3 linked regions of the Homo sapiens genome follow. The protein of the gene in region 1 interacts with the protein of each later gene in a biochemical or structural test. Each region holds a gene or a part of one and is shown in the gene's direction. Other genes may lie near its edges. The genes, in order: EXOSC10, USP36 and MPHOSPH6.

Evidence for each region.
Region 2: the proteins of EXOSC10 (region 1) and USP36 form a complex in vitro, tested with the Homo sapiens proteins (one study listed by BioGRID).
Region 3: the proteins of EXOSC10 (region 1) and MPHOSPH6 form a complex in vitro, tested with the Homo sapiens proteins (one study listed by IntAct).

The regions. Positions count from the first base shown.
Region 1 is NC_000001.11:11,067,111-11,078,055, reverse strand, and holds part of EXOSC10 (exosome complex component 10), read left to right. Parts: intron 1-404; coding exon 405-455; intron 456-612; coding exon 613-691; intron 692-1,107; coding exon 1,108-1,214; intron 1,215-3,729; coding exon 3,730-3,825; intron 3,826-4,047; coding exon 4,048-4,122; intron 4,123-5,884; coding exon 5,885-5,969; intron 5,970-7,067; coding exon of another isoform or gene 7,068-7,082; coding exon 7,083-7,156; intron 7,157-8,325; coding exon 8,326-8,497; intron 8,498-9,349; coding exon 9,350-9,411; intron 9,412-9,971; coding exon 9,972-10,048; intron 10,049-10,945. UniProt on the Homo sapiens protein: Catalytic component of the RNA exosome complex which has 3'->5' exoribonuclease activity and participates in a multitude of cellular RNA processing and degradation events.
Region 2 is NC_000017.11:78,795,815-78,806,759, reverse strand, and holds part of USP36 (ubiquitin carboxyl-terminal hydrolase 36), read left to right. Parts: intron 1-439; coding exon of another isoform or gene 440-473; coding exon 474-604; intron 605-2,781; coding exon 2,782-3,375; intron 3,376-3,904; coding exon of another isoform or gene 3,905-4,224; coding exon 4,225-4,436; intron 4,437-6,991; coding exon 6,992-7,093; intron 7,094-7,736; coding exon 7,737-7,852; intron 7,853-8,208; coding exon 8,209-8,340; 3' UTR 8,341-8,360; intron 8,361-8,857; exon of another isoform or gene 8,858-8,880; 3' UTR 8,881-10,945. UniProt on the Homo sapiens protein: Deubiquitinase essential for the regulation of nucleolar structure and function. Required for cell and organism viability.
Region 3 is NC_000016.10:82,145,199-82,154,706, reverse strand, and holds the end of MPHOSPH6 (M-phase phosphoprotein 6), read left to right. Parts: intron 1-3,192; coding exon 3,193-3,283; intron 3,284-5,303; coding exon 5,304-5,398; intron 5,399-5,843; coding exon 5,844-5,976; 3' UTR 5,977-6,545; downstream 6,546-9,508. UniProt on the Homo sapiens protein: RNA-binding protein that associates with the RNA exosome complex. Involved in the 3'-processing of the 7S pre-RNA to the mature 5.8S rRNA and play a role in recruiting the RNA exosome complex to pre-rRNA; this function may include C1D.

The DNA.
Region 1 (10,945 bases):
AGCAGTCCTCCCACCTCAGCCTCCCAAAGTACTGGAATTACAGTTGTGAGCCACCTGCCAGCCCCACATTTGCAATTTTTGTGTTAAAAATGTCTTTGTAAGCTCTGTACTTTGTCCAAGTAAAGAGAGACCTTGATTACTAGAGAAGAGTCTTTTTCAAGCTCTTTGGAATCCTTCCTATTGTGCTTAGTCATGTTAAAGAGCTTTATTCTTTCATTCTACAAATAATTATTGAGCACCAAATAATTATCATGCCAGGCACTGTAAGGAGTGAAGAGAGGAAAGAAAATCTCTGGGCTTTTGAGAAACAGGCTGGTGAAGGAATACAGTCAGCGCTGGAGACTGGGGGTTGGACTTGAGGTGCTTGGGCAACTTTCCTCAATTCCCTTCGTTTTTTTCCTTAGTCTGAAGTTGCAGCCGGAGTGAAGAAGAGCGGACCGCTGCCCAGTGCTGAGGTAGAGTGTCGGATCTGTTTTCTCCCCCAGGAGGGAAAACGTCAAGTCACAGCCAGTGCAAGTACACCTCTGACAGAGGCCTGTGCTGACAGCTGGCAGAAAGCTACTGCCGGCTTGCACGTTTTACATGCCAGCCTGCTGGTGTCTTTTAATGCAGAGATTGGAGAATGTTCTCTTTGGACCTCACGACTGCTCCCATGCCCCTCCGGATGGCTATCCAATCATCCCAACCAGTGGTAAAGTCGAGAGCCCTCCTGACTGTCCCGAAGAGGTTGGGACACAGCTACCTTGTCTAAAATTCTGTAGGCTTGGCCGGGCGTGGTGGCTTATGCCTGTAATGCCAGCATATTGGAAGGCTGAGGCGGGTAGATCACCTGAGGTCAGGAGTTTGAGACCAGCCTGGCCAACATGGTGAAACCCCATCTCTACTAAAAATACAAAAATTAGCTGGCATGGTGGTGGGCACCTGTAATCTTAGCTACTTAGGAGGCAGAGGCAGGAGAATCACTTGAACCGAGGAGGCGGAGGTTGCAGTGAGCCGAGATTGTGCCATTGTACTCCAGCCTAGGGGACTACACTAAAACTCCATCTCAAAAAGAAAAAATAAACAAAATTCTGTAGGCTTTGACCTTACTATCTTCTGCTCCTCTAGGATCTGTGCCAGTTCAGAAGCAGGCGAGCCTCTTCCCTGATGAAAAAGAAGATAACTTGCTGGGTACCACATGCCTGATTGCCACAGCTGTCATCACGTTATTTAATGTGAGTAGCACAGAAACTTCACTGAGGTGATGAGGACCCCCTGGGATTTACTGGATTTATTCAGCAGGCTGTCTGCCTGGAGCATTGCATACACTCGGAGACTAATGCTGAGAGCAAAACCCAGCAGTGCTGGGAGAGGCATAGAGACCAATGAGCAAGGTGGCACTGACCACTCTGGAGGAGGTGGTCTGGGGACGTGGATGGGGGATTCTCTTGAGCTCTGTGTGAAGAAATCTTCCAGGAAAGGCTGACGTCCTGTTGTTGAACAGCACCTAGTGGGAGGAGGGCCTGCGCTAAGAGAACATACAAGCAGGGCTTTCCAGACAAGCTGCAGTGGTGGTGGAGGAAAAACGGTTCACCTGGATGCCCAGCAGGGGTGGCATGGGTGTACTGTCCGATGAACTGTAGAATGTGCGCTGCCCATAGCTTCCTGCCTGACCCCAGCACCACATATGTGTGCTTTCAGTGAAGAAGAGAAATGATTTTTTTTTTTTTTGAGACAATCTTGTTCTGCCACCAAGGCTGGAATGCAGTGGCACAATCATGGCTCACTGCAGCCTTGACTTCTGAGGCTCAAACGATCCTCCTGCCTCAGCCTCCTGAGTAGCTGGGATTACAGGCATGAGTCACTGTGCCCAGCTATTTCACTTTTTTTGTTTGTTTGGTTTGGTTTTTTGAGATGGAGTTTCGCTCTTGTTGCACAGGCTGGAGTGCAGTGGCATCATCTCGGCTCACTGCAACCTCCACCTCCCAGGTTCAAGCGATTCTCCTGCCTCAGCTTCCCTAGTAGCTGGGATTGCAGGCGCCCGCCACCATACTTAGCTAATATTTTATATTTTTAATAGAGATGGGGCCACTATGTTGGCCAGGCTGGTCTCGAATGCCTGACCTCAGGCGATCCACCCACCTAAGCCTCCCAAAGTGCTGGGATTACAGGCATGAGCCACCACACCCGGCATTTTTTTTTTTTTTTTTTTTTTTTTTTTTTGTGACAGGATCTCATCCTGTCACCCAGGTGGGAGTGCAGTGGCACCATCCTGGCTCACTGCAACCTCTGCCTCCTGGGCTCAAGCAATCCCTCTGCCCCAGCCTTCTCTCGAGTAGCTGGGACTACAGGTGTATGCCACCATGCCCAGCCAATTTTTGTATGTTTTGTAGAGGTGGGGTTTCACCATGTCGCCCAGGCTTCACTTTGGTTTTTAACTTAATTACATAAATCTAGATTGGGCCTTGCTTTAGCAATTAATGAGAAAATACTAGGCGCTTTAGCTGACCTCAGAGCTAATTTGAGTCATGAAGATGATTTAGCAGCTAAGCGTGTTAGCATGAGCTCTGGGCTGCTTTGATACGGAAGTGCTGTTTGGTGTAAAGGAGGCTGTGGTCTCCCTGCACTCTTGTGTTGCAAGGGCGCATAATTACAGATGAAGCAAAAGGATAGCACATATTTATGAACCCAGTTGGAAGCAGCATTTTGTTGCATAATTTCAATGATTCCCTATAAAGATATGTAATACTAAATTTCAGGCCTGGCGTGGTGGCTCACACCTGTAATCCCAGCACTTTTGGAGGGCAAGGCGGGCATATCACCTGAGGTCAGGAGTTTGAGACCAGCCTGGCCAACATGGTGAAACCCTGTCTTTAATTAGCCGGGCATTGTGGCGCACGCTTGTAATCCCAGCTACTCGTGAGGCTGAGGCAGGAGAATCACTTGAATCCAGGAGGCGGAGGTTGCAGTGAGCAGAGATGGCACCACTGCACTCCAACCTGGGCAACAGAGCAAGACTCCACTCAAAAAAATAATACATACATACATAAAATAAATTTCAGGCATCAATTAAGACCTCATGTTCTAGAGCCAGACCATGGTGGGTTTAGATCCTTGGTCTGCTTGTATTCACTGCAAGCCTCTGAAAGACTGTCACAACCTCTGTAGGCCTCAGTTTCCTCCTCTGTAAGATGGTGAGAGTAATACCACCTCATAGGCTATGAGGACATGCTGAGAATTCACTGATCCAGCACATTGATATTGAAATGCTACTGTGTGCTGTTGCAGACACAACACCTTATACATAAGAGAGTGTATGAAAAATTAGCCTTAGCCATTGGTATTAATATCACTGTTACTGGCCGGGTGCGTGCGGTGGCTCACACCTGTAATCCCAGCACTTTGGGAAGCCAAGGCGGGTGGACCACTTGAGGTCAGGAGTTCAAGACCAGCCTGGCCAATATGGTGAAACCTGGTCTCTGCTAAAAATACAAAAATTAGCTGGGCATGGTGGCACGTGCCTGTAATCCCAGCTACTCAGGAGGCTGAGGCAGGAGAATCGCTTGAACACAGGAGGTGGAGGTTGCAGTGAGCAGAGATCACACCACTGTACTCCAGCCTGGGCAAAAGAGCGAGACTCTGTCTCCAGAAAAAAAAAAAAAATCACTGTTAACTGTTGCTCTCTTGCTTGCATCTTGATGTCACAGATGATCATGGTCATTAGTGATCGTTTTTTGTCTGTCCCTGCAGGAACCTAGTGCTGAAGACAGTAAAAAGGGTCCATTGACAGTTGCACAGAAAAAAGCCCAGAACATCATGGAGTCCTTTGAAAATCCATTTAGGATGGTGAGTAGTAGTTTTGTCAGGGCTGACAGGATATGCAGAGATGCCTACAGCTGTACATGCTTTTACCTGGGAAGGAAGCCTCTGAAGCCAGTGTGTCGGCTGCCCTGGTGTCCTGGCAAAGACGCTGACAAGGCACCAGCAACCCCCCATCTGAGCGCTTCTGCCCCGTGGCTCTAGATTCCGTTCCCGGCAGCGTTTCACACAGCCATTTCCTTCCTCCAGTTTCTGCCCTCACTGGGACACCGTGCTCCCGTCTCTCAGGCAGCGAAGTTCGATCCATCAACCAAAATCTATGAAGTAAGTGGACTTGTCACCTGTTCTAAAAGAGACTTTTTTTTTTTTTTTTTTTTTTTGAGATGGAGTCTCGCTTTGTCACCCAGGCTGGAGTGCAGAGGCACAATCTTGACTCACTGCAACCTCCACCTCCCAGGTTCAAGCAGTTCTGCCTCAGCCTCCCAAGTAGCTGGGATTACAGGCACCTGCTGTCATGCCCGGCTAATTTTTGTAGAGATGGGGTTTCACCATGTTGACCAGGCTGGTCTCGAACTCCTGACCTCAGGTGATCCACCCGCCTTGGCCTCCCAAAGTGCTGGGACTACAGACGTGAGCTACTGCGCCTGGCCCTAAAAGAGACTTTCTAAGAAAAGGGGATTTCTTAATTATTCATACCAGGTTTCTGTTTTAGACAAGCCTATCTCATCTGTGAATCCCGTGAAAATGAATGCAAAAGCCCTTTATTTTCTAGCATTGTTTCTAGGGAAAGGGTCCAGAACTTCAGTGAGATTCTTAAAAGCACTTGGGCTGGGCATGGTGGCTCACGCCTGTAATCCCAGCACTTTGAGAGGCCGAGGCGGGCGGATCATGAGGTCAGGAGATCGAAACCATCCTGGCTAACATGGTGAAACCCCGTCTCTACTAAAAATACAAAAAATTAGCCAGGCGTCGTGGCAGGCGCCTGTAGTCCCAGCTACTCGGGGGGCTGAGGCAGGAGAATCGCTTGAACCTGGGGGGCGGAGCTTGCAGTGAGCCGAGGTTGCGCCACTGCGCTCCAACCTGCGCGACAGAGCGAACTCTAGCCAAAAAAGAAAAAGAAAAGCACTTGGAAACTTTGTAAGAAACAAATCTTCATTTGCGGTTTTTAAATTGAGGTTTAATCTATATGTAGTAAAGTACACAAATATTAAATATACAGCTTGATGCATTTTTATAGATGTCTGTTACTTTAAGGCTCTTAAAGGTGACAGCTTTAATTTTAAAACACTCTATCTTACTTATCTGGCTTGTTTTTACCAGCATTATGAGTAAGAATGAGAGCACACCTCCCCTAGACCCTCTTGAGATGTTCCCCAGAGCCAGAACGTGAACTGTTGTTCGCAGCCTCCTTCCTCCCTTTAGGAAGCGTCTGCTCTGATGACATGGGCGACTGGCTTCCTCTGTGTGGCAGCAGAGCTCTTTTGTTAGGCAAAACCGAGAGGTCCCCCAGCCCCGTTCCTGTCCCTGAGTTAGCTTGCTATTTTTGGAAATGGGGAATCAGGTGGGGCTTCTGCCTTCTCTCCTCTTTTCCCCCCACGGGTTATGTCACACTGAACAACTGCACGTCCTGTGTGTTATGCCCAGTGTCACCTCCATGTGTTGTAACGCCATAGGTCCGTGGGGTGTCATAAAGAAACACAGCAGACTTGCGGAAGCCCAGCCTTGAGTCTGCTTCTGTCATTTACTGACCATGTCCCTTGGACAAGTTATTTACTCTCCCGGAGTCTGTTTGCTCATCTCTAAAGAGAGGGTGATGACAGTACCTTTTTCCCAGGGTTACAGAGGGATTGAATGAGATGATGGATGGCCCAGTGCCTGGAGGACAGTAGCACTTTGTCCTTAATAGGGATTTTAGCAATAAAGCCAGCATGAAATTTATTTTTCATGCCCTTAGATTTGAAAATTTATGACTTAGAATGTGTGTACTTCTTAGGTTAACCTGCCCTTCGTCACCTCATGAAAAGTAAGACAGACTTAGGTGGCTGACTTTGGAGGGTTTTTTTTGTTATATTTGCTTTCATTATAGATCAGCAACCGCTGGAAGCTGGCCCAGGTACAAGTACAAAAAGACTCTAAAGAAGCTGTCAAGAAGAAGGCAGCTGAGCAAACAGGTAACACTCACTTCCTTGCAACTCAGTCGGCTGTTAAAGAATGGCTGTTGCACACCCGCTGTTTCAGCCAAGTGCCAGATACGGCGATGAATGAAGCCCCTGTGGGGCTTCCCTTCTGCTGAGGGATGGTGGGCAATCAGTATCTATCCTGGCAGATGGCAGCAGGTGCTGTGCAGAGAGATTGGTGGGGAGTGCTGGAGGTGCTGTAGCTGTCTCGTTGGTGGTTGGAGAAGGCAGTCTAATGAATGCGACATTGACGAGACCTGCAGTGACCTAGAGAAGAGTTCTGGAGCCACAGCACAGCGAGCCCAGAGGCCCTGGGGCTAGTTCACTGGGCATGCTGAGCAGCAGCAAGTGGGCCTGCATGAGCAGAGCGGGTAGAGAAGAGCAGGAGATGGGGAAGGAGCCAGCAGAGGCCCACGGGATGACGCTGCCTTTTACTCTGAGTTCAGAAGCCAGGAGGGTGCTGAGCAGACGGGGGGAAGTGACTGACATGTGGCACTCTGGCTGCTGTGTCAACAGTAGACTATAGAGGACAGGATGGGAGTCCAGGAAGGGATAGGAGACATGGCAGTGGCTCAGGCGAGAGGGGATGGTGGCTTTGAGACCAGCGTGGGAGCAGAGGAGGTGGTGAGAAGCTGTCAGAGCCTTGATCTGTCCCATAGCAAAGCTGACAGCATTTGATGATGAGGTGGATGTGGCATGTGAGAAAAGGGAAGGGAACCTTGGATGAAGGTTTTGTCCTGAGCAGCTGGAAAGCTGGAGTTGCTGGCAGCCAAAGTAGCTGGTTTGAGCAGGTTTGTCCACGATGGTGATGGTGACGATCCTGTTAAACGCCCTCAGGTCCACAGGCCACTGAGCATTTAGGTTCACAGAAGAGGAGCAGGCAGGGCTGGGGAGGATCAGCTCACGTGTAGCTGAAGGTGGGCAGAGCACCTGAGCCTGAGCTCTGAGGCAGCCTGTCCTGCAGAGATGGGGGACCGGGGACCTGAGAGGGAGGAGGAATCAGCCGTGACAACCCCTGTGGCTAGGCCAAGTCGGAGGGGGATGGAGATGGAGGGGAGGGTGGTTGCTGGATTCACCAACTCCAGAGACAAGTTCTCTCCCTTGCAGCTGCCCGGGAACAGGCAAAGGAGGCGTGCAAAGCTGCAGCAGAACAGGCCATCTCCGTCCGACAGCAGGTCGTGGTATGTGCCAGCTTTTCTCCTTTTTCCTTTGAAAAACGATGCCCCTGCTTGTGGTCAGGATCTTCCTTGGATATCTTAGGGGGCTTGCCCTGTGCTTTATATTAAGTCCTGACTTCTTTCCGGTTCACCTTAGCTTGGCTATTAGTGTCTACCTCATTTCCGAAACCTCCACAAGATTGATATTGTAATTCCTCTTAACCTTCTTCCACTGTGTTTATGGTAAATATGCCAGACCACTCAACTGTAGTAGTAGAAAAGGTATTGAGGTTACAGTGCTGAAGCTTGTTGTGTGTCCTGCTGTGTCCTACAAAAATGTTGCATTCTAGAGAATGAAACCCCAGAGCACTCTGGAACTCTTTTTTTTTTTTTTTTTTTTTTGAAGTAGTGTCTACCTCTGTTGCACAGGCTGGAGTGCAGTGGCACAGTTGCAGCTCACTACAGCCTCAAACTCTTGGGCTCAAACGATCCTCCCTCCTCAACCACCCAAGTAGCTAGACCACAGGCACACACCACCATTCCCAGCTATTTTTTGTTATTGTTTTTGGTGGAGACGGGGTCTCACTATATTGCCCAGGCTATCACTCGAATTCTTAACCCCTGCCCCCTGCCTTTCCTTTTTTTTTTTTTTTTTTTTAATTTCCTTTTAAAAAAAAAATAGTGACATGGTCTTACTCTTACCCTGATGCCCAGGCTGGAGTACAGTGGTGCAATTATAGCTCATTGCAGCCTTGTACTCCTGGGTTCAAGTGATCCTCCCACCTCAGCCTCCCAAGTAGCTAGGACTACAAGCACGCACCACCATGCCCAGCTACATTTGTTTCTTTTTTTTTGTAGAGATAGGGGTCTTGCTATGTTGCCCAGGCTGGTCTCAGACTGCCTAAAGCAGTCCTCCCACCTAGGCCGCCCAAAGCACTGGAATTATAGGCATGAGCCACTGCACCTGGCCTGCTTGCCTTTCTTAAATGACCTCATGTCATTGTCCAGTGAGGAATTTGTTTCAGCTGACCCTGAGTGTTGGTCCCGAAGTTCCAGCCACAGCTCCTCTCCCCACCACTGACTGTTCTTCTTACCACTTAGGCAGCTGGGTCCCAGCTATTGCTGAGGCCGGTGGAGTTCCCTGTTCCCATGTGCCTCCCTGTTCCTCCCCCACATCTGTTCCTGATCTACAGCTAGAAAATGCTGCAAAGAAGAGAGAGCGAGCAACAAGCGACCCAAGGACCACAGAACAGAAACAAGAGAAGAAACGACTCAAAATTTCCAAGAAGCCAAAGGACCCAGAGCCACCAGAAAAAGAGTTTACGCCTTACGACTACAGCCAGTCAGACTTCAAGGCTTTTGCTGGTGAGGAAGTAATGGGGCCCCATACAGGGACATCTGTGCGCGTCAGAGGGGAGGAAGCCATAAAGAGACCACAATATAGGGGCCAAGTGAGTCCTGCACAAGGCATGGTGCTAGCCAGGAATTGTTGGAGTAGTCCAGAGAGGCCGTGGCAATGTGGACAGTCGCCTGCAGCCTCATTACCACCTCCTCCATGGGAGCTCAACTCATGGTGGCCTCCATGGTGGGTTAGCAAGATCACCTGTCACTTCCACTGTGACCAGGGCGCCATCCTTCCTCACTATAACTTGTGCCCATAAACCCTCTCTCTCTCTCTCACACACACACACACACAGAATTTTGTTTGTTGAAAAATCTCAAAGCCTATGACATGAACCCCTATGGCTGCTTGGGCTGTGAGAGTCCGTCTGCTTTGAAGGGGCTACAGATGGCATTCTCGACTCTAGCAGCCTTCGGAGCAACATGCTCCTTTGGAAAAGAGAAAGCAGAGGCCAGTCCACACAATGGCCCTTTATACAGGAGTGTCGCCTCAGAGCCCGAGTTCCTTATGGCATCACCCAGCACAGAGATCAGAATGGATTTCCTTATGTGCGGGGGCCACTGCTGTAGCCACCTGCCCCTAAGGTCCTGGGACTAGAGCTGAGAGAAATGGGCCTGGTTTTCAGACTGCCCACAGGGACCAGGATCGCTATGTATTCATTTATGTGAGCCATGAGCCCTAGCCCCTCATCGTGACAGGGGTGCTCTCACAGCCAAGGCTTCCCTGAGTGTCATGGTCCCGGCCTCGCTGTGAGCCTGTGATGTGTGGTAACTCATTGACCTGACCGCAGGTCTCTCTCATCTCTTACCTTTCAGGAAACAGCAAATCCAAAGTTTCTTCTCAGTTTGATCCAAATAAACAGACCCCGTCTGGCAAGGTAAGAACTGCTCCTGGAGGATTTTAGCACGCTGGTGGCGCCTGTTTCTGACCTCCTCCTCTGCTGAGAAGACAGGCCCATCCAGGAGTCCATTCCTTTGCATATCTTTTTCCTCACCTCATTTCTTCCCAAGGGCAGACAGTACTGATCAGCTACCCCAGCAACTCATAAAACGAGGCTGTAAAAGCTGGCATGTGGCTTTAAAGGGTATTATTCTGTGTTTGCTACCATGGGAACTATAGCTGCAGGCCAAAAGCACCCCCTTTGGGGCCAGCACAAGCCTGCATTCACCCCTCGTGGGTGTTGGTGCTGGTGCCAGGGAAACAGCGTGGCTGTAGCTTCCACAGGCGCGGGGGCAGGGCTGCTTTGGGGTGCTCCTGTTCCTCTTGCAGCGCATCCTGGCGGCCTTGCCTTCAGAGACACAGAAACATCCTCTCTCAGGGGATCTAAAGTCACTCCTGTGCTGCTAGAATCTTTGGCCACCTGAGCTCAGGTGTGTTTTTCTGTGTATCTTGTGGTCAAGGTGCCCACCCAGCTTAAACGGTTTCTTTTCTTTTCAGAAATGCATTGCAGCCAAAAAAATTAAACAGTCGGTGGGAAACAAAAGCATGTCCTTTCCAACTGGAAAGTCAGACAGGTATGTGGTGGACGGCGGTGTGGCCCAGGGAGCCCAGTGAGAAAGCACCTGCCCTGCGTGGTGTGGTCCGTGGGGAGTAGCTGGGGAGCGAGTGTCCAGGGGTCTTCAACCAGGATGACTCAGAGAACCTCCCACAGCCAGGTCCCTCACGCCACTCGGAAAACAAGGGCGGGAGGTGATTTGCTCTGTGCCATACATCACAGAGCCAGGCACTGCACCCCAGGACTCAGATTCCCCTTGTTCCTGGCTCTCTAGTTACCGTGTGTCCTGGGGTCACCTCAGGGAAAATAGGTGTAAATAGTTGTGAAATTTTCCTGGACCAGCCTATTAGGAATGAGGAAAAAGTAAGCACATGTGGGTTATCCTTGTTGTTGAAGAGTGGTTTGGCTTGGTTTGGTTTTGTTTTGTGAGAGTCTCATTCTGTCACCCAGGCTGGAGTGCAGTGGCACAATCTCAGCTCACTGCAACCTCCACCTCCTGGGTTCAAGCAAGTCTCTCACCTCAGCCTCCCGAGTAGCTGGGATTACAGGTGCCTGCCATCATGCCCGGCTAATGTTTTTTTTTTTTTTCTTCTTTGAGATGGAGTCTCGGTCTGTCGCCCAGGCTGGAGTGCAGTGGCACGATCTCTGCTCACTGCAAGCTGCGCCTCCCGGGTTCACGCCATTCTCCTGCCTCAGCCTCTCGAGTAGCTGGGACCACAGGCGCCCGCCATGATGCCCGGCTAATTTTTTGTATTTTTTAGTAGAGACGGGGTTTCACCATGTTAGCCAGGATGGTCTCGATCTCCTGACCTTGTGATCCGCCCGCCTCGGCCTCCCACAGTGCTGGGGTTACAGGCGTGAGCCACCGCGCCCGGCCTGTTTTTGTATTTTTAGTAGAGATGGGGTTTTGCCATGT
Region 2 (10,945 bases), on another chromosome or scaffold:
AGAGAGCCCTGATCTGGTGATGCTCATGTGACTCATGGAGGTTTGGGCAAGGTAGCAGTTCCCTGTTTTCACAGTAGGTGGAAGATCCTGACTGAACCCGAGGGAGGGTGGGCCCCACCAGCACGTGTCCCTAGCAGGGGTGGGGCGGGCAGGAAGCGCAGAGCCCCAGTGGGGTGCCCGGCACCTCTGCAGCAGGAAGCTTGGGCAGCCACGGCACGTGGATGTGATTGTTGTGCTGAGATTTTTGTTTAAATTTTCTTCCTTTTTTTTGTTTCTAACCAAAAATACTTTTCTGGTTCTTCTTCTACCATTCCCCTGCCCCTCACCTCCCCTTTTTGTCTTCTTCTGTCTCCTCATCTTTTTTTCTGGGCTCTTTTGTTTTTATTTTCATTTTTTGTTACTTTTGTTTTCCCTCTTCACTCACGGAAACCTTTTTTAGACCACCAAGTTTTTATTTATGTCGATAACTGCAGGCCAGCACCCTGTGGAGGGCGACCGGCAATGACCTCCGTCCACCTCCCCCCTCACCATCCTCCGACCTCACCCACCCCATGAAAACCTCTCACCCCGTCGTTGCCTCCACTTGGCCCGTCCATAGAGCCAGGTAAGCTTTGGGCCGGGATCTTCTGGGTGCCAACTGGTTCTCCCTGTGGTTGCGTGTGCTTGGCTGGTGAGGAGTTGGACGAATCGCCAACCTCACAGGACAGACAAAGCATTGGGGCAGCCAGGAGGTACAGGGGGGCGTCACTGACCAAGATCCCCCTCTTCTGTGTTCCCCTGTGGTAAAGGAGCTTTGGGTGGTGAAGGCAGTTCGGCCTCTGCAGTCCTGATGTCTTAGTTCTGTCTTTGTTGGTGGTCTGTCTGCGACATCCTTGTGGTGATGTGGTGTGCTGGGGACTGACCTGTCCTGTATCCCTACCAGCCCCATGACAGTACTTCCCAGTCGAAGAGAAAGGCGAAGTGAGGCCTTGGCGAGAGGCTTGAGTGAGCTCGGAGTCCCGAGCGTTTTTTGTGGGACGTCTTGCCTGCTAGCGTCATGCAGGTTAAGAACTGTCTCAGGGCTCTCGGGTTCCTCTGCAGACACCTGCCAGAGATGCAGCCCCTTCCCTGTGCATGTGGGCCCTGGTCCGCAGGGGCTGCCTGCGTCTCTTAGGTGCCTCGAGTGGCAGGAAGTTGAGAGTAACTGGTAAATGGCTGTCTGGAAGCCGCTGGGAGTGGGGACGGAAGCAGTGAAAGATGGGGTGAGTCATGAGGCGGCCTGCGGGGACTGTACTGGTGGCCTCGGCGCTGGGTTCTAGTTCTAGAATCTCCAGTGCTACATGAGGGCGAGGTATGACTGTGCGTCGCCCACAGCCTCTGCCTTACTCTCCTCTCACATATACACACACAAGCACACCTCTGCCCTATACCTAGCATAAGATTTGTGTACGTGGGAGGGCCTTAAGTGTTTGGGTGTTTTTCGTTTCTTGCCTTATAAGCTTTTTTGGAAAAGATTCCAGAAGACACTTAGAGTAATCAAACATCGTGCAGCTGGCATGGCCCTTATAGTTTGTTTAGATGATGACGGGGGTCCTGTTTTCTGCAGGAACCCTGGGAGGTGGGCTTTGTGGTCCCAGCTCATTGACAAATGAGAACATGGTGGTTCAGAGTGGGAAGTTAATTTTCCTAGAGACACATAGCTGGCAAGAGGGAGCCTCACTGGGTTCGGCACTAGATCCTGTCCCGGACACGCCTTGCTCATGATTCTGCTCTACGCATCTGTGTCCCGGTTTCAGCGTCCTAATGACGGTAATGTGGAGGTGTCATTAGGCCAGCTCAACACTTGCTTTCCTTATGAGGCTCATTTCCTGCCCGGGAACACCCTGAGACTTTCGGAGGTTGGAAAATAAATCCTCACGGGATCTTTTTTTTCCTTACCATTTATTGTTTCGTGAAGGTTTCCTCCCTTAACACATTTGTATTAAAGATGTTTTTACATTAGAGCTCGCAAAAATACTTGAATTGCTTGGTGACAAGAAACTAAGGCATGGAACAATTCTTATTAACTTTGCCTTTTAAAAAAAAAAAAATTTTTTTTTTGACTTTTAAAATCACGTGTTGGCTTGCTTTTTTTTTTTTTTTTTTTTTTTTTTTTAAATCTCAGGGATCAGTTATTTTAAGTTCCAGGGTACATGTGCAGGATGTAAAGGTTTGTTACAGAGGTGCCATGGTGGTTTGCTGCACCTATCAACCCACCACCTAGGTAACTTTGTTTTTTTTTTTTTGTTTTTGTTTTTGTTTTTTTGGTTTTTTTTTTTTTTGAGACGGAGTCTTGCTTTGTCGCCCAGGCTGGAGTGCAGTGGCGCGATTCGGCTCACTGCAACCTCCACCTCCCAGGTTCAAGCGATTCTCCTGCCTCAGTCTCCTGACTAGCTGAGATTACAGGCGTGTGCCACCACGCCCGGCTAATTTTGTATTTTTAGTAGAGATGGGGTTTCACCATGTTGGCTAGGCTGGTCTCAAACTTCTGACCTCAGGTGATCCAGCCACCTTGGCTTCCCAAAGTGCTGGAATTATAGGCATGAGCCACTGTACCTGGCCAACTTTGCATTTAAATAGATGTTGAATTAATTGTTAGCTTTCTTTCAAACATACATGTAACTTAATGTGTATCTGAAAACTACAGGGTAAAAGCCTTTTCAGATTTTTAGGTGAAAGGGAGGGGAGTGAGGGTAGACAGAAGGAACAGCTCTGCTGGGTCTTTCAGAACATCCTCTCCCTGTTTCCTGGCTGTCCCCACAGGGCTGTGTCACCTGCTCCCCAATCATCCAGCCGCCTGCAACCCCCCTTCAGCCCCCACCCCACATTGCTGTCCAGTACCCCCAAGCCCCCAGGGACGTCAGAACCACGGAGCTGCTCCTCCATCTCGACGGCGCTGCCTCAGGTCAACGAGGACCTTGTGTCTCTTCCACACCAGTTGCCAGAGGCCAGTGAGCCCCCCCAGAGCCCCTCTGAGAAGAGGAAAAAGACCTTTGTGGGAGAGCCGCAGAGGCTGGGCTCAGAGACGCGCCTCCCACAGCACATCAGGGAGGCCACTGCGGCTCCCCACGGGAAGAGGAAGAGGAAGAAGAAGAAGCGCCCGGAGGACACAGCTGCCAGCGCCCTGCAGGAGGGGCAGACACAGAGACAGCCTGGGAGCCCCATGTACAGGAGGGAGGGCCAGGCACAGCTGCCCGCTGTCAGACGGCAGGAAGATGGCACACAGCCACAGGTGAATGGCCAGCAGGTGGGATGTGTTACGGACGGCCACCACGCGAGCAGCAGGAAGCGGAGGAGGAAAGGAGCAGAAGGTCTTGGTGAAGAAGGCGGCCTGCACCAGGACCCACTTCGGCACAGGTAAGGGCAGGAGCAAAGTGGCATCTGTCTACCTCTGACGAGAAACAAAGCAAAACCACAGAATCTACCCCCAAGTAGGTATGGTCTGGAAACGTAGTCTGCTTGCGTGGTTTTCTAAAATGTGGATTTGTGATCAGATGTCTCCTCTGGCTGGGTGTGGTGGCTCACACCTGTAATCCTAGCACTTTGGGAGGCTGAGGCGGGTGGATCACTTCAACCCAGGAGTTTGAGACCAGCCTAGGCAATATGGAAAAGCCCTTTCTCTACCAAAAACAAAAATTGGTTGGGCATGGTGGCATGCACCTATAGTCCCAGCTACTCAGGAGGCTGAGGTGGGAGGATGGTTTGAGCCCAGGAGGTGGAGGTTGCAGTGAGCTGAGATCGCGTCACTGCACTACAGCCTGGGTGACAGCTAAACCCTGTCTAAAAAAAAAGAAAAAAGAAAAAATATCTCCTCTGATAAATACCAGTGGATTGATCCTTGAAGCGACAGTGGTGTGGACAGTAGTGTCCATCATTGTATGTGCAGGGCCGTTCAAGGATGCTGGATCAGGTGTCCCGGGCCAGGCCAGGATCTGCCGTTTCATCAGGTCACAGTAGCCTGCACATTGGCGTCAACAGGCTTGGCTCAGTTAGGATGGGAAACGCGACTGGTTTTCCCTCTACTGTCTCCGTGGCTGCGTGTGGAGCGTCCGCTAATGCGTGTGGGGGGAAGAATGTTGCAGGGACCTGCGTGCACTGGGTCACAGCTGGGGTGGCACCTTCTCCATGTTGCAGGCGGGTGTCTGTGCGCTCCTGCTCCCCTTCCAATTTGCTCAGAGCTGACTGCTGCCTCTCACTTCCAAGCAGCTGCTCTCCCATGGGTGATGGTGATCCAGAGGCCATGGAAGAGTCTCCAAGGAAAAAGAAAAAGAAAAAAAGAAAGCAGGAGACACAGCGGGCAGTAGAAGAGGATGGGCATCTCAAATGCCCAAGGAGTGCCAAGCCCCAAGATGCTGTTGTCCCCGAGTCCAGCAGCTGCGCACCATCCGCGAATGGCTGGTGTCCTGGGGACCGCATGGGTATGCACCGGGCGAGGGGGTGGGAACCGCATGGGTGTGCACCGGGCGAGGGGTTGGGGGACCGCATGGGTGTGCACCGGGCGAGGGGTTGGGGGACCGCATGGGCGTGCACTGGGCGAGGGGTTGGACCGCGTGGGTGTGCACCGGGCGAGGGGGTGGGGGACCGCGTGGGTGTGCACCAGGCGAGGGGTTGGGGGACCGCGTGGGTGTGCACCGGGCAAGGGGGTGGGGGACCGCGTGGGTGTGCACCGGGTGAGGGGGTATTGGGGAGTGCACAGGCTGAGAGCAGCGTCTACTGCATCTGAGCTTGGGAGGGTCTGGGAGAAGATGTGGAGGGCCCTGGGACCCTACCAACCTTCACCCCCCACCCCCGAGTCTGCTCCCTTGGGTGATGGGGTTGAAGCTTCCTCATGTGTCACAGCATTTGACTGAAACAGCCCCATGAGAGAGGTTACAGTGCACATGAACTTTAAAACATTCTGTGAATGCCAGTGGGTCTTCCGATTCAAAGCTGTTCTGTCTACAGCTTCTCACGGAATGACTCCCTGAACTCCCAGCCTGAGTTTTTTTCTGTGATGGTTGAATTTAGAAGAGTTGGGTTCAAAAGTGAATCCTCCTCTCCCTCTATGTAGCTGGGCCATTCAGAACATAGCACGGTTTGCTTGCTGTTGGGGACCTGTGTGCTGTGGCTGTCCTTGGGCACCACCCCTCAATCGGAGGGTGTTTTGTTTTCTTTAGGGCTGGCTGGGGCATGCCTTGGCAGGCACCCGCCACAGAACACATTTGTTAAGTGAAGGGGAGAGAAAGTCCTGGCTGCTTGGTATAGGGGGCCGAGCTTGAGTGAGGCCTCCTCTGCAGTCTGGAAGGTCTGATTATGGCAGTGCATCTGGGGGTCAGCAGGACCTTAGAGACTGATTTGTATTTATCCAACTCTTAAGAAAGGAATTTATCGTTAAAAATGAAATGGTATGAAATAAATAGCAAAACGTGGGTGCTAGCTAGTGCCGACTGAGTTTGCTGGCCAGCATGCTCTCAGAAGTACTGCCCTGGCCGGGGGTGGTGGCTCACGCCTGTAATCCCAACACTTTGGGAGGCCGAGGCGGGCGGATCACAAGGTTAGGAGATCGAGACCATCCTGGCTGACACGGTGAAACCCCGTCTCTACTAAAAATACAAAAAGTTAGCCAGGCATGGTGGCGGGCGCCTCTAGTCCCAGCTACTCGGGAGGCTGAGGCAGGAGAATGGTGTGAACCCAGGAGGCGGAGCTTGCAGTGAGCCGAGATTGCGCCACTGCACTCCAGCCTGGGTGACAGAGTGAGACTCCGTCTCAAAAAAAAAAAAAAAAAAAAAAAAATACTGCCCTAACATGGCACCAGAGCTGTGCTCCGTGCCACCCTCGGAGCGAAGTGGAGTTGGCTTGTTAGTGCAAGGGACATCACTTGAGCACTTGCGGTGCGCCAGGGTCCATGCCAGGTGCTGGTTGTGTCTACTGAAGTGCGCCCTGGGCCCTCGGGGCTCCCTGGCAGAGCCAGAACCACACAGTAAGGGCTCATGCTCAGCAAGGAGGCGCTGGGGGCCGCATGGGCTCTTGCAGTCCTGTGCACCTGAGGAGAGTGGCTAAATGGGCAGGGCACCAGACCCAAGGGCAGGAGGCGCAGCACGTTGGGAGCAGGCAGGCTGCTCTGCATGGCCGGGTCCCTGGGCTGTGTGGATGAGATGGGAACCATGGAAGCCACTGTGTGGGGGCAGGGGACACTTAGCCTGGAGCTCACTGAGGAATTGGAGGCAGGGAGAAATGAGGTCAGATTTGTGTGAAGGGAGGTGAGTATATTCCAGGGGCTATGTGGCTAGCTGGGCAGAGGACGAGTTCAGAAAGGGTTTCTAGAACCCGATGAGGGTGGTGAGTGCTGTCCTGGTCCCGAGGTGCTGGGTGGACCTGTGCGGTGTTGCTGATGGGGACCAGGTTCCCCCTGGACAGGGCTTAGGAGGTCGGGCCCCTGATGGCAGCAGCCAAGCTTGGCCGTTCCCTCCACCCCTGTGGCCATCCAGGTGTCAGGCTGGTCCTGGGGCATGGGCCTCTCCCGTAGGTGAGGTGGATTCCATTTAGATCTAGTTCTCTTCTCTCCTTCTGTCAGACTGAGGACTTAACACTACTGGTTAAAGGGGTTTTGGAGGGTTTTTTTTTTTTTGGTTTTTAGCTTTTTGTTATTTTCCATGTTTTCTTTCTCATGAATTGACTTGGACAACAGCCTTCTCTATTGTGTCAGGTCATTAGTAAATTAAGCATGTAAGCATTAGTAAATAAGCATTTAGGCTGGGCGCCATGGCTCATGCCTGTAATCCCAGCACCTTGGGAGGCCAGTGGGAGTCCCAAGGAGTTTGAGACCAACCTAGGAAACATAGTGAGACCCTGTCTTTAAAAAAAAAAAAAAAAAAAAAAAAAAAAGGCAAGCATCCACTTACTGTAAGTTGTTTTATAATTTAAGGTGTGCGATTGCTTCCCCAGTGGGTTATTTTAAACGTCTGTAAATGTTTCTTGGCTGCTCCGATTGCAGGGCTGAGCCAGGCCCCTCCTGTGTCTTGGAATGGAGAGCGGGAGTCTGATGTGGTCCAGGAACTGCTCAAATACTCATCTGATAAAGCTTACGGGAGAAAAGGTACTGATTTGGAGACAGGACTTCTGTTTGCCTTTCATTGGTTGGTTTTGTAGGAGGGAAGGGTGTGGAATGGATCCTGGTGCACTGTGAGTGTGGCGGGCGGGCATCGCTCGGCTTTGAGAATGGGAAGAGGAATCTCAACACTGGCTGGAGTCCTCTTTAAACCCTCAGCCGTGGCACGAAGGTGGCTTCTGTCCGTGGCAGGATCCAGAACAGCTGCTTCTGAGGGTTGGGGCAGGGTGAGGAGCCCCACACATGCTGTGTCTTGGGTAGGGAAGGGGCAGAGTGACGAAGCTCTTCCAACCTGGGTAATGTCACTTCTTGCTCAGAGCATGTTTTTATTCAGACTTCGAGACCAAACATGACATCTTTGTTCCTCAGACGAGGGCATGGGTTTAGAAAGAACTGAACTCTTTGGCTGTGGTTTAGGGTTTAGCTAAGAGGGCATCGCTGGGGGTTCCATGCTGACCGACCACACATGGGCGTCGAGCCGTCCTCCTCTTGTCCTTCTCTTCACCACAAGGTGGCACTCAAAATTGTTGACTAATTATGAGTAGACTAGTTGGTAAATGACACTCTTGAAGTGAAGCCACAGGGGACCTGGGAACCTGCACTCGTGCTGACCCCCGTGTCTGCCTGGTAGTTCTGACCTGGGATGGCAAGATGTCGGCGGTCAGTCAGGATGCTATTGAAGACAGCAGACAGGCCCGGACTGAGACCGTGGTTGATGACTGGGACGAAGAGTTTGACCGAGGGAAGGTATGATGTGTGATGCTGACCACAGGCTTGAGGGAGCAGGGCGGCGTGGCTCAGCTCAGAGCCGGGGCAGTTGGAGGTGGCGGCAGTGGCATGAAGCGGCCGAGCATGAGAAGAGCCAGGCTGCCCAGGCCTGTCCGGGCGTGTGGCCATGGACAGGGCATGCATCCTCGCAGCTTCCGCCCCTTTGTCAATAGGGGGACTGCAGGTCGCCGTGCACAGGGGTCATTGTGAAGAGTGGGTCTCCAGAGAGCTCATGAGAGCCCGGCCTGTGTGCAGGACCTGCATGCAGCATGGAGCCCCGTGGGCCAGGAAAGAGCCGTTTTTGGGAACTGTGATGCCTGTGATTCTTGGTCTAGGAAAAGAAAATTAAAAAATTTAAGAGAGAGAAGAGGAGAAACTTCAACGCCTTCCAGAAACTTCAGACTCGACGGAACTTCTGGTCTGTGACTCACCCAGCAAAGGCTGCCAGCCTCAGCTATCGCCGCTGACTGTGCCCCTGTGGAAGGAGGTCGGTTCCGAGGGGGTGGGTGTAAGGGTGAGGTGGGGGTGTGTGTGCCGTGTATGTGTGTAGGGGTGTGGTGGGGTGTGGCGTGTGTGTATGATGTATGTGGGCTGTGTATCTGGCACATGTGTGTTGGGTGGTGTGTGTGGTGTGGGCGCGTCTGTGGTGTGTGTCCTAGTCACTTGGAGAAGGGTGTGTGTGGGATGCGTGTGTATAAGGGGGTGTGTGTGGGATGCGTGTGTATAAGGGGGTGTGTGTAGTGTGTGTTGGGTGTGGGGTGTGTACACCTGGCATCTGTGGCATGTGTTCTGGTCACTTGGAGAAGGGCATGTGTGGGGTGTGTGTGGGATGTGGGTTGTGTGTATATCTGGCATGTGTCCCAGTCACTTGCAGAAGGGTGACTTCTTGCCAGCCGCATCGAGATGCCATGCATTGGGTTCCTAGGTTGGACTCATACCCGAGGGTGGCAGTGGGAAGATTCGGGTCTCGTTTCTCTCTGTCAGGACTACCGTGGTTTGTTCTGCAGCCTCCTGGAGACAAGGCGTCCCTTCCCGGGAGCTGTCGGTCTGGATCTGAGGGAGCTCTCTGTGTGGGCTCTGCTGCGCTGGGAGCCTGTCACGGTAGGAGCTCTCCCGGTACCAGTGTCCACAGACCGCCCAACACAGAGGCTTTGAGGCTTCTCTAGATCGGAACCTCTTTGGTGACATTCCCGACCAGCCCTGCAAGAGAAACGACAGTGTGTGTGTGAGCAGAGGTGGCCGCACACCTGCTGGACATCTTTGCCAGGCTGTGCCTTCTCATGTTTCATAGACAGTGGTCTGTGCTGGCAGAGGCTGCTGCCCCTGGTTGGGGCTATCAGGAGAGTGGGGGATGGTGGCCACATGTCCCCCAGGTGGTCTCCCGGTGCATAGCTGGTGGCTCTGGGCAAGCCATCCCTTGCTTCTCGGGGCTGACGCCACCGTTGTGTCCGAGCCCGCCCTCCCCTGCTTCCTCAGCGGGACCCCTTCATCTGTTGGCCTTACCTGTCCTCAGAAAGGAAGAGGTGACCCCACCCAGCCACCTCTCCCTTTTATGGAACTCGAGAGGGTGGCCCTACTGTGCACCCCTTCCTTGTGAGTAGCTCTCAACTGTCCTGGAGAGCAGAGGCTATTTGGGGTCGGAGGAGCCCTCGATACCTGCGAATACATCTGCTTTCCAGGCTGCTGTTTATTCTGAGACGACTGTGCTGTAGCTTCCCTTGCAGCTGCAATAACCCGCAGGTCTTCACTGAGGTGGAGGCTTTGGGGTAGAATTCTCCATTTATTTTACTACTTAATACAAAACATTTATTTTTGACCAGTCCTGTGGCTTCCATTAGCAATATGTTTCCTTTCCCAAATATGCAAATAGTGGCTTTGTTTGCTCAATTTTGTGAGTGCTTTGGAATTTAAATGATTGTATAACTCAAGAAGATTACTTTTCTATGTTGCTCAAGCTGTGCCTGCCAACTTGTAACTTAATAAATACAGGAAATCCTCAGAGAAGGTGATATTTTCAGGAAAAAGACAAATGCCCTCATAGTAGTGGGAAGTGTGAAGGTGACCGTGAACATCCTTCCTCATCGGGTCTGTCCCCGTCATTTCCTCCCGGAGTCGTCGCAGGTGGAGATGGACAACGTGGTGTTGGACTTAGACCTCCTTCAGTGTGGCTCTGCTGGGCCAGAGGCATCCTGCTGTCCCGGGTGGCTGCCTCGCTGTCTGCACCCCCTCTCCCTGGGGCAGCTTTGCTTCCTGCCCCTGTGCTCGGGGCCTGGGTGGTTACTGGCGTGTAGATGGAATTGCTTTTTTAATATGGGAAGATACATTTATTTTTTTCCATGTGGGTGGGTGTCTCTTTTTGGATTTTCTTCTGTTTTTACGTTTCTCTTCTTAGAAGGGTGGGAGAGAATCAAGCTCCTGTGGCCACCTGTGTCCCAGCAGCAGTGAGTGGAGCTGCTCAGGGTGCCCTCTCCTGCGGACCAGTCTCTGAATGTTCAAAGATGAGGGCCTGGCTTCCGTGCTCTGGCTTTGTAACTTATCTGGAAGGGAAAGCACATGCCTTCACGGGCAGGGTATGTTCCTTTTCTTCTCGGGGTGTTGACTTGCATTCCTGTGTGAACTGTTCCCTCTGCCATGTTTACCGTGTGATGTTCTGTAGTTGAAAATGTTAGTTGTCTGCTGGCACAGAATTTATCTCGTTCCTTTCTCTCCCTTCTCTCCTCCAAATCAGTCTCTTCCCTTCTCCACTAGATAACTGTAAAACCTTTTCCTGGGGTACATACATTCGTTAACTCTTGGGCAGTGGTGAGCACGAGATGACTTTCTGCAGCGTTTATCACTGTTGGGTGGAGTCACGTCCCTTCCCTCCACCGAAGTCATCAACCAGATAGGGAAGGGAAAGATGAGGCCCAGAAAACGAGTTCAAACTCTAGGTCTTGTACACGTATGTAAGTAAATGTCAATAACCCAAGCCTTTGTCATAGCAGTCACTTGGTTGACTTAGGATCTGGGTCTGTTGAATTTTGTGCTTGGGAATGGAGCTGGAGGGAGTGGGGCCTGTGTACAGCAGCTACC
Region 3 (9,508 bases), on another chromosome or scaffold:
TTTTCACTGCAGTTTTTTTTTCAGTTATATAATTTATTTTTTTAAATTGTTTTTTCCCTTAATTATATAAGTTCTATTGGTGTTTTTTTGCAGTCTCTATTTCTTAATTCAGGCTTTCTGTTTCTTTCTTCATTGCATGCATGTTTTCGTTTAAATCCTTGAATAAATTTACAGTAACTATTCTAAAGTCCATTTCTACTAATTTCATTTTCAGTTGTTTTCTTTCTTTCTATGAGGGGATTACATTTTCTTGCTTCCTTGCATGTCTAGGAATTTTTTATTGTGTGCTGTACATTTGTATGTATTACATTGCTGACTACCTGGATTTTGTTATTTTTCTTAATAGAGTGTTGAATTTTGTTTCATTAGGCAGTTGACTTACATGCCAATCAGCTTGATTTTGTTAGGGTGTGTTTTGTAGCTAAATTGTCTCTACTCCTAAGGTGTGGCCTTTCTACTAAATATCACAGAGTGTTTAGCTTGTTCTCTCCTCTCTGGCTAGGCAGAACTCAAACATTTCCTTGCTCTGTGCAAGCTCTGTTATTTCTTCAACATGCAATTGCAGGGTAAATTTTTTTTCCCCAGGTATGGTAGGCTGGAAAATGGTCTCCCAGATAATATCTAGGTTTTCATCTCTGAAACCTGTGAGTGTTACCTTATGTGGCAAAATTTACCTTGCTGGTATATGAGTAAATTACAGATCTTTAGATGAGAGATTATCCTGGATTATCTGGGTGGGCCCTAAATGTAATCACTTTTCCTTATAAGGAGGAGAGGTGAGGAAGATTTGACACACAGAAGGCCTTGTAACCGTGGAAGCTTCTGGAGGGATCCCAGGCCTACTAACATCTGGATTTTGTACAGAACTGTAGGAGCATAAATTCTGTTGCTCTAAGCCACCAATTTTGTCAGCTTAAATTTGTTACAGCAGCCACAGGAAGCTAATGCAGCAGGTGTTCTCCCAGAAATCATCTCTCCAGCAGTTACTTTTTCCCTAAGTCTAAAGACTCATCCTGCACATGTGCAGCTTCATGGTCAGCCAAAGATTCAAGGGAACCCAGTATGCAGGTCCTGAATTCCATAGTGTAGCTCCCTTTCAGTGGTATCCTCACCCAGATATTCCAGCCACCACCATAACCCCAAACTTCAGTTTGTGCCTTTATTTTTTTCAACTAAAGCCCCAATGAAACAGTTTGTCTCTTAAGCTCAGCAAGACAGGGTTTTGTGTGAGTCCCCCACTCCCTGCTCCACAATCTGGAAATTGCCTCCAGGCAGAAAGCTCCGCATTCATGGGGTCTACTTCATTTGATTTTCTTCTCTCAGGCATCACAGTCATATGCTTGGATTTGTTCATTATCTGAAAATGGTCATTTTATATTTTGTCCTGTTTTATATAATTATGGTGCAGGAAAGCTAGTTCCATACCAATTACTCCCCTACAGCTAGGGATGGAATAACCTGCTTTATTTTCATCCATTGTGTGATATAAATGTTTCATGTTTCATTCATTATTTGGCCCCTCTTTCTATAGACTGTAACCTCCAGGAGAGCAGAGGCTCCTTTTTTTTCTTTTTTTTTGGAGGTGAGTGTTTGACACTGTCACCCAGGCTGGAGTGCAGTGGCACAATCTTGACTCATTGCAACTTCCACTTCTGGGATGCGAGCAGTTCTCCTGCCTCAGCCACCTGAGTAACTGGGACTACAGGCATCCGCCACTGTGCCCAGCTGAGGCTCTTTTACTGGTGGCTGTTTCCGCAGTTTGATTTAATACACACAGTTTGGTTTAATAAGTGTTTGTTGCATAAGGGAATCTTTATGAGAATCAGAGCCTACTCCGGCAAACAAGCCTTAAAAGCCACATGTTTGCTTTCCTGCCATGCTTTAGGGTTTATGGCCAGGCTGGAGATAGATATGTCACCTTGGATTTACGGTCATGTGGTGGTGACTCAGCAGAGAAATTCTGCTGCAGACAGAAACATCCTGGTCCAGGGAACGCAACCTGCCCCAATGCCATCAGTGGTGTCGTGCTCAGCCCCGTCAGCAGCAACAGTGGTTTTCCTAGGGTCATTCTCTAGCATGATTTTGGTTCTGGTGCAACCACCTAGCGACCGTTATTTCTGCCCGTCTTCCAATTCTGCCCCTTCAGCCTTCCCGGTGATTCTGAGATGCCCAGTACAGCTGGCTCTTTGTGTCACAGATTTTGATATCTACAAGGGGTCCTGGAACCAGTCCCCCTTGGAAATGAAGAGCCTACAGTGTTCTTACAGTAAATTCCTTCTCTGCTGAAGTCATCCAGGGTCAGCCTTTGGTGTTTATAGCTAAGAGCTCTGACTGATAACACTGTTAAAGCTGCTCAAGCCTCTGATTTCCCACTACTTCTCCTGGATTTGTAATAAGAATTTGGTGGGGGCCAAAATCTCAGAAGTCACCACTAAAGAACTTATCCATGTAACCAAAAAACCACCTGTTCCCCAAAAACTATTGAAATTTTTTGAAAAAAATCTGTGTATAAGTGCACCACACAGCTCAGACCTGTGTTCAAGAATCAACGTAAATGCAAGTACAAAAAAGACTGGAAGGAAATATTCAAATATACTAACAGTCCTTTTTATCCTCTTGGTAAGGAGCTTACAGGCAGTTTATAAACTCATACTTTATTCTGCTTTCCAAATTACGTTCCTTAAAATGTGCTGCTTTGATAATTAGAGAATGGAATTTTTGAAATCCCTGAGAACGAAAGACAAAATATGCCAGAAACTTTATTAAAATGATTTGGAGTAGTGTGTCACTGTATACTGTATGTGTATTTTTACATACATATTATTTCCTTTCTGAAAAAGAATTGGAAAAAAATATGGTGAGGGGATGTAAACACAAAAGAAACTTTGCTTCAACTTTGGCAAATTCAAGTTTATTGTCAATACTTTAGATCTTTATATTATGTAGATATTTATGCAAATTAAATGTGGTGTTTAAGAGAGGCTGTGCCTCTAGCTTGCTGCTCTTGTCTCCTAATGCCTTTGCTGACCAAATTAATCAGATTTTATTTTTAACCCTAAGTTAGAAATCTTACTGTATTTTTACTTCATTCTACTGAGAACCATAGGTTGATTATTTTTTTTATTCAAAGTGTTGGCTTTTGTTTGCTGTGCTTTATATATGGAGAAATGCTATTTTTATTTTCCCATTTAGGAGTTTCATAATAGAAGAGCAGAGTTTCTTACTATGTGAAGATCTTCTCTATGGAAGAATGTCATTCAGAGGATTTAATCCTGAGGTTGAGGTATTAAATATAATTGCTTCAAATTAAAAATTTTTCCAATTGAATTTTTTTCTGCTAATAATTGGGCTTAGGTGTTTCTCCACCAGGTACCATTTCTACTCATTATATAGAAAATAACAAGTCTTGAAATATCGCCATAGCTATTTAAAGAAATTGGAGGCATTGCAGTCTAGTTTTATGGTAGAGGTGAGTAGATAATTTCATATAGCAGTATACAGCCCTTGACAGAGCCACCATAAATATTAAAATTTCAAGTTGTGTCTTTTACAGGAACGTCAAGATTTTATTCATATCATGCTATTATGAAAAGTTATTTTCTGGCACCTATACATGTATTTTTTCTAACGGAAAAATGTTACTTTAGAATTATGTCATTTGACTTTTTAATGGACTGTTGTAATCCAAGCTTGTAAGTAGATTTTTAAATGAATCCTTTCGACAGTTTGTTTGAAAAATGAATATTTGCCTTATAACTGAGCTATTCATTTGAATTTTCCTGCTCCAGGATAGAGAAGCAGACCTTTATTTAACAAATATTCATTAGAACTCTGGCTCATATGTTAAAAGCCATCCTATCAAGTACTTGATGAACCAAATGGACACATGAGATATAAATCTTTAGTTTGGTAAATATTACTTGAAGCCAGTGTTTCTTGCCCTTGGCAGTGTTAACATTTGGGGCCAGATAATTCTTTGTGGTGGTGGCTTTCCTAAGAGAATGACGAACCACATCCCTGTCCTCTGTTCTCTACCAACTAAATATCAGTAGCACACACACACCCCACCCTCCTACCCAGCTGTGACAACCAAAAATGTTTCCAGACATTTTCACAGGTTCCCTGGTGGGGAAAATCATCCCCAGTTAAGAACCACTTCTCTAGGAGCCACAGTTAACTAAGCCAATTGCCAGAGTTTATTGAAAGATTCTAGGTTAGTTTTCCTTTTCTTTTTTGGCGGAGTGGGAGGAGGCATGTGTGATAATTAAGGTGTTATGTTAGAAGTGTTTGTTTTTAATATATGCTGGTCTCGCTTTGACTTTCTTTAATTAAGCTTCAGATTGAGAAGGAGAGGGGCTGGGCAGTGGGGTGAAGAGGGAAGAAAAAGGCAGGGATTATGAAGATGTGGTATTCAAAGAGTAGGGTTTGGATAGGCGAGCATTCCAAAGTATGTCTGCTGCAATGGGAAAGGAGAGGTGCCACTGCCCGCAGAAATTGATGGGGGGCAGGGACGGGTGTTAGAAAATGGCCCTAATTACTGGATTCTGAAACACTGAATACACTCCCCCTAGGAAAAGGTTTTAAACTATTATCACTCTTTTAAGCCTTAGAAAAACTAGTTAAGACTGATTTCTCATCTTTTATTCCTTCTCCTCTTGCTAAAAAGAAGAGATTACACATTTAAAAAAAAAAAGGTCAGAGGATAATTATCACAAAAAGGTTTATGTGAAAGAGTTGGAGGAGAGACCCTGTGGTGCATGGATGTTACATGGGATGCATTATCCACTCTAAAGTTTAGGAGGGTAAGGCTGAGGTGCAGATTCCCTCCATTAAACAGGGCCAGCCTTCCACTTCTCCCACCTCCTCCACTCACCACCACCACCACCAAGAGATGCATTTAAAATTATTACTGACGACTAGTGTTTCTTCCATATGGCTTAAAGATGGGTGGGGGAAGTTCAGGGAAAATCTGAAAGTTTATTATTTCTTCCCCCACTCACCGGAATGTGTCAGCAGTATGCCTGCTTTAAATATGAGTAACTAATACTAAGATTTATGATCTTAAATACACTTTAAATTCACCCTAAGTATAATTCAGTGGGGCTTTGCCTTACTATTTTTTTGACTCAGAGCTTACTTCTCTTACACCATTGTGGTATCAAGTATTACAGAGAGTCCCTTATCAATTTTGACTAGTTCTCTAGATTATTTGACTTCAGTTTCTCTGCCTTCAGGTAAGTTTGACATCAGTTCCTTTCACAAGCGTTTTCTAGCCTGAAGGTCAGCACTGGTGTATTTTTCAGAAATTGATGCTTCAGATGAATGCTAAGCACAAAGCAGAAGAAGTTGAAGATGAAACAGTAGAGCTTGATGTGTCAGATGAAGAGATGGCTAGAAGGTAACCGTGCTGCGCAGCAGCCTTCTAATCTGGACCTAGCATTCATTGGCTCTCCCAGGAATGCTCCTCTTACCCCACAGTGCACGGCAGCTTTCAAGGGAGTCCCCCAGTAGGACGATGACTGTGATCGGCCTTCTCTTAATGGCCTACGGGGGCCACAGACCTGTCTCAGGCTGCCAGTTGAGGGCCCATTTCCAGAGCTGCTGGAAATGTGTATTTTAAAATGTACATCTCTATTTATTTAGGGTAATGCAAACACCAAAATGGCAAGGAATTTAATCACTCTTAGAGAAGTTCATAAATTGTTAAATCAGATGGTTTCTTTTAATGATAGTTTTCTTTTTCGTAATCTTTTTTATTGCATATTTGGTCTGATATTCTTGACAAGGCTTGATCCCTACCTTTTTATTTGAAATTAAACGTGTGCTGCCTGTCCTCTTGACAGATATGAGACCTTGGTGGGGACAATTGGGAAAAAGTTTGCCAGAAAGAGAGACCATGCCAATTATGAAGAAGATGAAAATGGAGACATAACACCAATTAAAGCAAAGAAGATGTTCTTAAAGCCCCAGGATTAAGATGGATGCCTTAAGCGATGGCCCAGGGGTGCTTGGTGGAAGTCAGCAGGGCATCTGGAGCTCATCCCAATGGTGTCTCTATAGTTATTAATACTGTAACGTTTACTTGTAAAGAGATTATCATTTTAGAAACATGCTGTTTTTGAAACAGATGTGTGATGGATGTTGTACATCCTTTGCTTCTTGGTATTCATTCAGAGTGGATTTTTAGCCCCTGATCTACAAATGTACATTGTTACAGGGCTGCTTCCTAAAGATTTTTTTTACCTCAGGTTTCTCTTAATATAGTTCTCCAGTCACTGACCTTGAATTGACTTACATAAACTACTGCCAATGTTTAAATTGCCCTTATGTTTATATTTATTATGTCAAGCCAATTCGTACATACAATTTGGAATCAAATGTCATAAGAATTTATTATATAAATTTATCAAGAATAAAAATGCCTCTCCAGCCTTAAGTATTTACATGCTCCCAGGTCATTGTCAGTTTATGGTATTATGTTGTTTTATTTAAAGCATTGAATTGATAGAAAAATTTGCTCTGTAATAAAAATCTACTTTCACATACTTTTTATATTTTCTTGTACTTTCAAATAACAATTTTAGTCTAATTCAGTAATATAACTTTTTTCCAAATAATAACTTTAAAAAACAGCCATTGATCAGAATATAGTGATGTATTAGGTTGAACCATAAGAAATTGCCTTTTACAGGTCAAAAATAACCTTTAGTTTCTTACGGTATAACCCAACAGAATTTACCACTGACCAATGGTACCATCTCCTAGTCTGAACTCTATTCTAAATGCTAAGTACAGAAAGAAGCACATAGAATTAAGTGTGTGTATGTGTGTCTGTCTTTCTGTCTGCAGATAAGTACCTAGGACTTCTGAGAACTACTGATTTAATTTCGCTCCCAGGAAGTGAATGAGGTACATGTCTCCTCTCTCCTCAAATCTCTGTAAGGAAGGTTTTATTGCTCTGTGACCTCAGTTCTCTGGTGAGTTATGAGAAAAGATAGGACTTTGAAGTTAATCTGGCCTTTTTTTTTTTTTTCACTGTGAGTATGAGAATGATGCACCTCCCAACTCTGGGAAGTAACGAGTTCTTCCCAGTGCCTTACCAGCACCACAATCCACGGACTTACTACCGGACTTACTACGTGTCTTATGTACCTGTCTGCACAGTCGACTTCTGATTGACAAACTCATTTCACCATAAAAGAAGTGGGGTAATGGGGGCTTATGCCTCTTGAGTGCACTGGTCTTAGCATATCCCCCATCACCCAGGAATAGCGGGCATAATAGGACGATGGAATGGTCTGCTGAAGACACATTTATGGCCCTAGGTGGAATACAACTCCATCTGACAAATGTAACGTGTGCTTTGATTGAGTGACCACTCCATGGGACTGTTCTTGGTCAGAATGCACGGTCTGGAATCAAGCAGAGGTAGATGGAGTGGTCCCACTCATGGGTGATTTGTTTCCTGCTTCTCTTGAGTTCCCAAGGGAGGAGTGCTCCCGCTAGGGGACACAACAATGGCTCCATTGAGACAGGAATTGAGACTATCCAGTCATTTCAGCACTGAACCAACGGGCTGGAGGTTACTGTTTTGGCTGGTGCAAGTGATCCTGGCAACAAAGGGGCATTTATGTCGTTCCTACACAGTGGATGGTGAGAAAGGCATCTGGAACCCAAGGATTCTCTAGGGCATTTTTAGCACTTCCCATGTATGCCACTAACTTCTAAGGGACAGCTATAACAGTCTCAAAGAGGGGAATGATTGAGGTCCTTTAGGGAATGATGTTTTGGTACACCCCACCCCGTATAAATCCTGAGAAGCTGAGCTACTGGCTGAGGGAAGAGGAACCATGGGATGTGTAAGGAAAGAAGGAAATTTATTATTTCAGCCTTATGACTAGCCAGTTACAGAAACAAGTTACTGCAACTGTTACATGGAGGGTTGGCACTCCATATCAGTGAGTTCCAGATATCGACTTGACTAACCACAGAAAGTACTCAAAAAATAAAAATACAATAAAAAATAATATAAAGTACAATACAGTATGACAACTACATAGCATTGACATTGTATTAGGCATCATAAATCATCTAGAGGTAGTCTAAGGGATACAGGAGGATGCACGTAAGTTATATGCAAACATGCTGTCTAAGGTAAGGGGTTTGAGCATCTGTGGATTTTGGTATCTGCAGGAGGTCCTGGAACCAGTCCTTGGATACCCAGGGATGACTGTTTTCTTCTGCGTGTGTGTGTGTGTGTGTGTGTGTGTGTATGTGTGTGTACTAATTTCTTCTCTTACCTCCTTATTTTGTTTTCTTAGGGCGTTAATTTCGCTATTTAGTCGTAGGGTAAGAATATTAGGTGGGTTTGTGATTAATTTTAGGTGTAATTAACTGATAGAATGTCTGCTGGGACTTTGTGTCTCCTCATTTTGGAGAAAGGCTGAGGGTATCTTGTACAAAGGATGTTTGCAGTGTATTCGGTAGAAACAGTTGTTTTCCTTGTTGCAGGAAGTTTAGGTTAGAAGTCTGTGGATGCTAAATGGCCGAAAGGGCAGGTTGTGGCAGATTCAAAGCTGTTGCTTCACAGAATCAAACTCACCCTCTGTATTCAGCTTTTAGTGCCGGGCTGGGACTGAGCAAACCCCATGTCTCCTATGCAGCTGACTTAATTAGGATCAGCCAGTGGAGGCCCAGCTGGAGATGGCGAGGCTAGAGGAAGAAGACAGGATGTGTCCCTTCTCTCTGCTTCCTCTTCTTTTCCTATTTCTTTGTCACCCTCAAAACACCTGCACCCCAGCAGAGGCTGGTATTCCAGGAAGAGTTGTTAATATGAGTTTAGTCTTCCCAACACTTGCTGCAACAGCCTCATAGCAACTCCTCAGAGACATCACCAGCACCAACCACCCTGTATTCATTCCGACATCTGTCCAGCGCCTTGGCCACAGGGTTCCCCCACCCAACCCAGAGACACTGATATTAGCAGAATAACAACTTAATGTCAGAGGTCTGAGTTTTGGCTCTTTGGGGCCCCTCCCAAGTTTCAAAAATTGAACAATTTCCCTCTCTTCCCTAGGAGTCGCAGCTTCCTGCATGATACCTCAGTGTTTTCCTTTTGCCTCGTTTAGTTCTTTAATACCCAATTAACAATTCTTAATATTTAATTTCCTCTGTTAAAATAAGGGTGGCTTTTAATCTCCTGACTAGATTTTAACTGTTACCGACATCCTAAAGCAATAATATCTGAAATCATGGGTTTGCTAAGCTTAAAATGCTAATTTTTCTAATCTGCATTCAAGCGTATAATGATTAAAGTTGAAATGTTTATCTATCTACAACTTCCTGGAAGTTATCTCATGAATCCAGGAATTAGTATGCACTTTTTAAAAAACACTGCCTCTGTATTTTTTTTTTTTTTAAGTTTGAGTCAACTTTATTTTTTTTAATTTTTTTATTTTTTTATTATACTTTAAGTTTTAGGGTACATGTGCACATTGTGCAGGTTAGT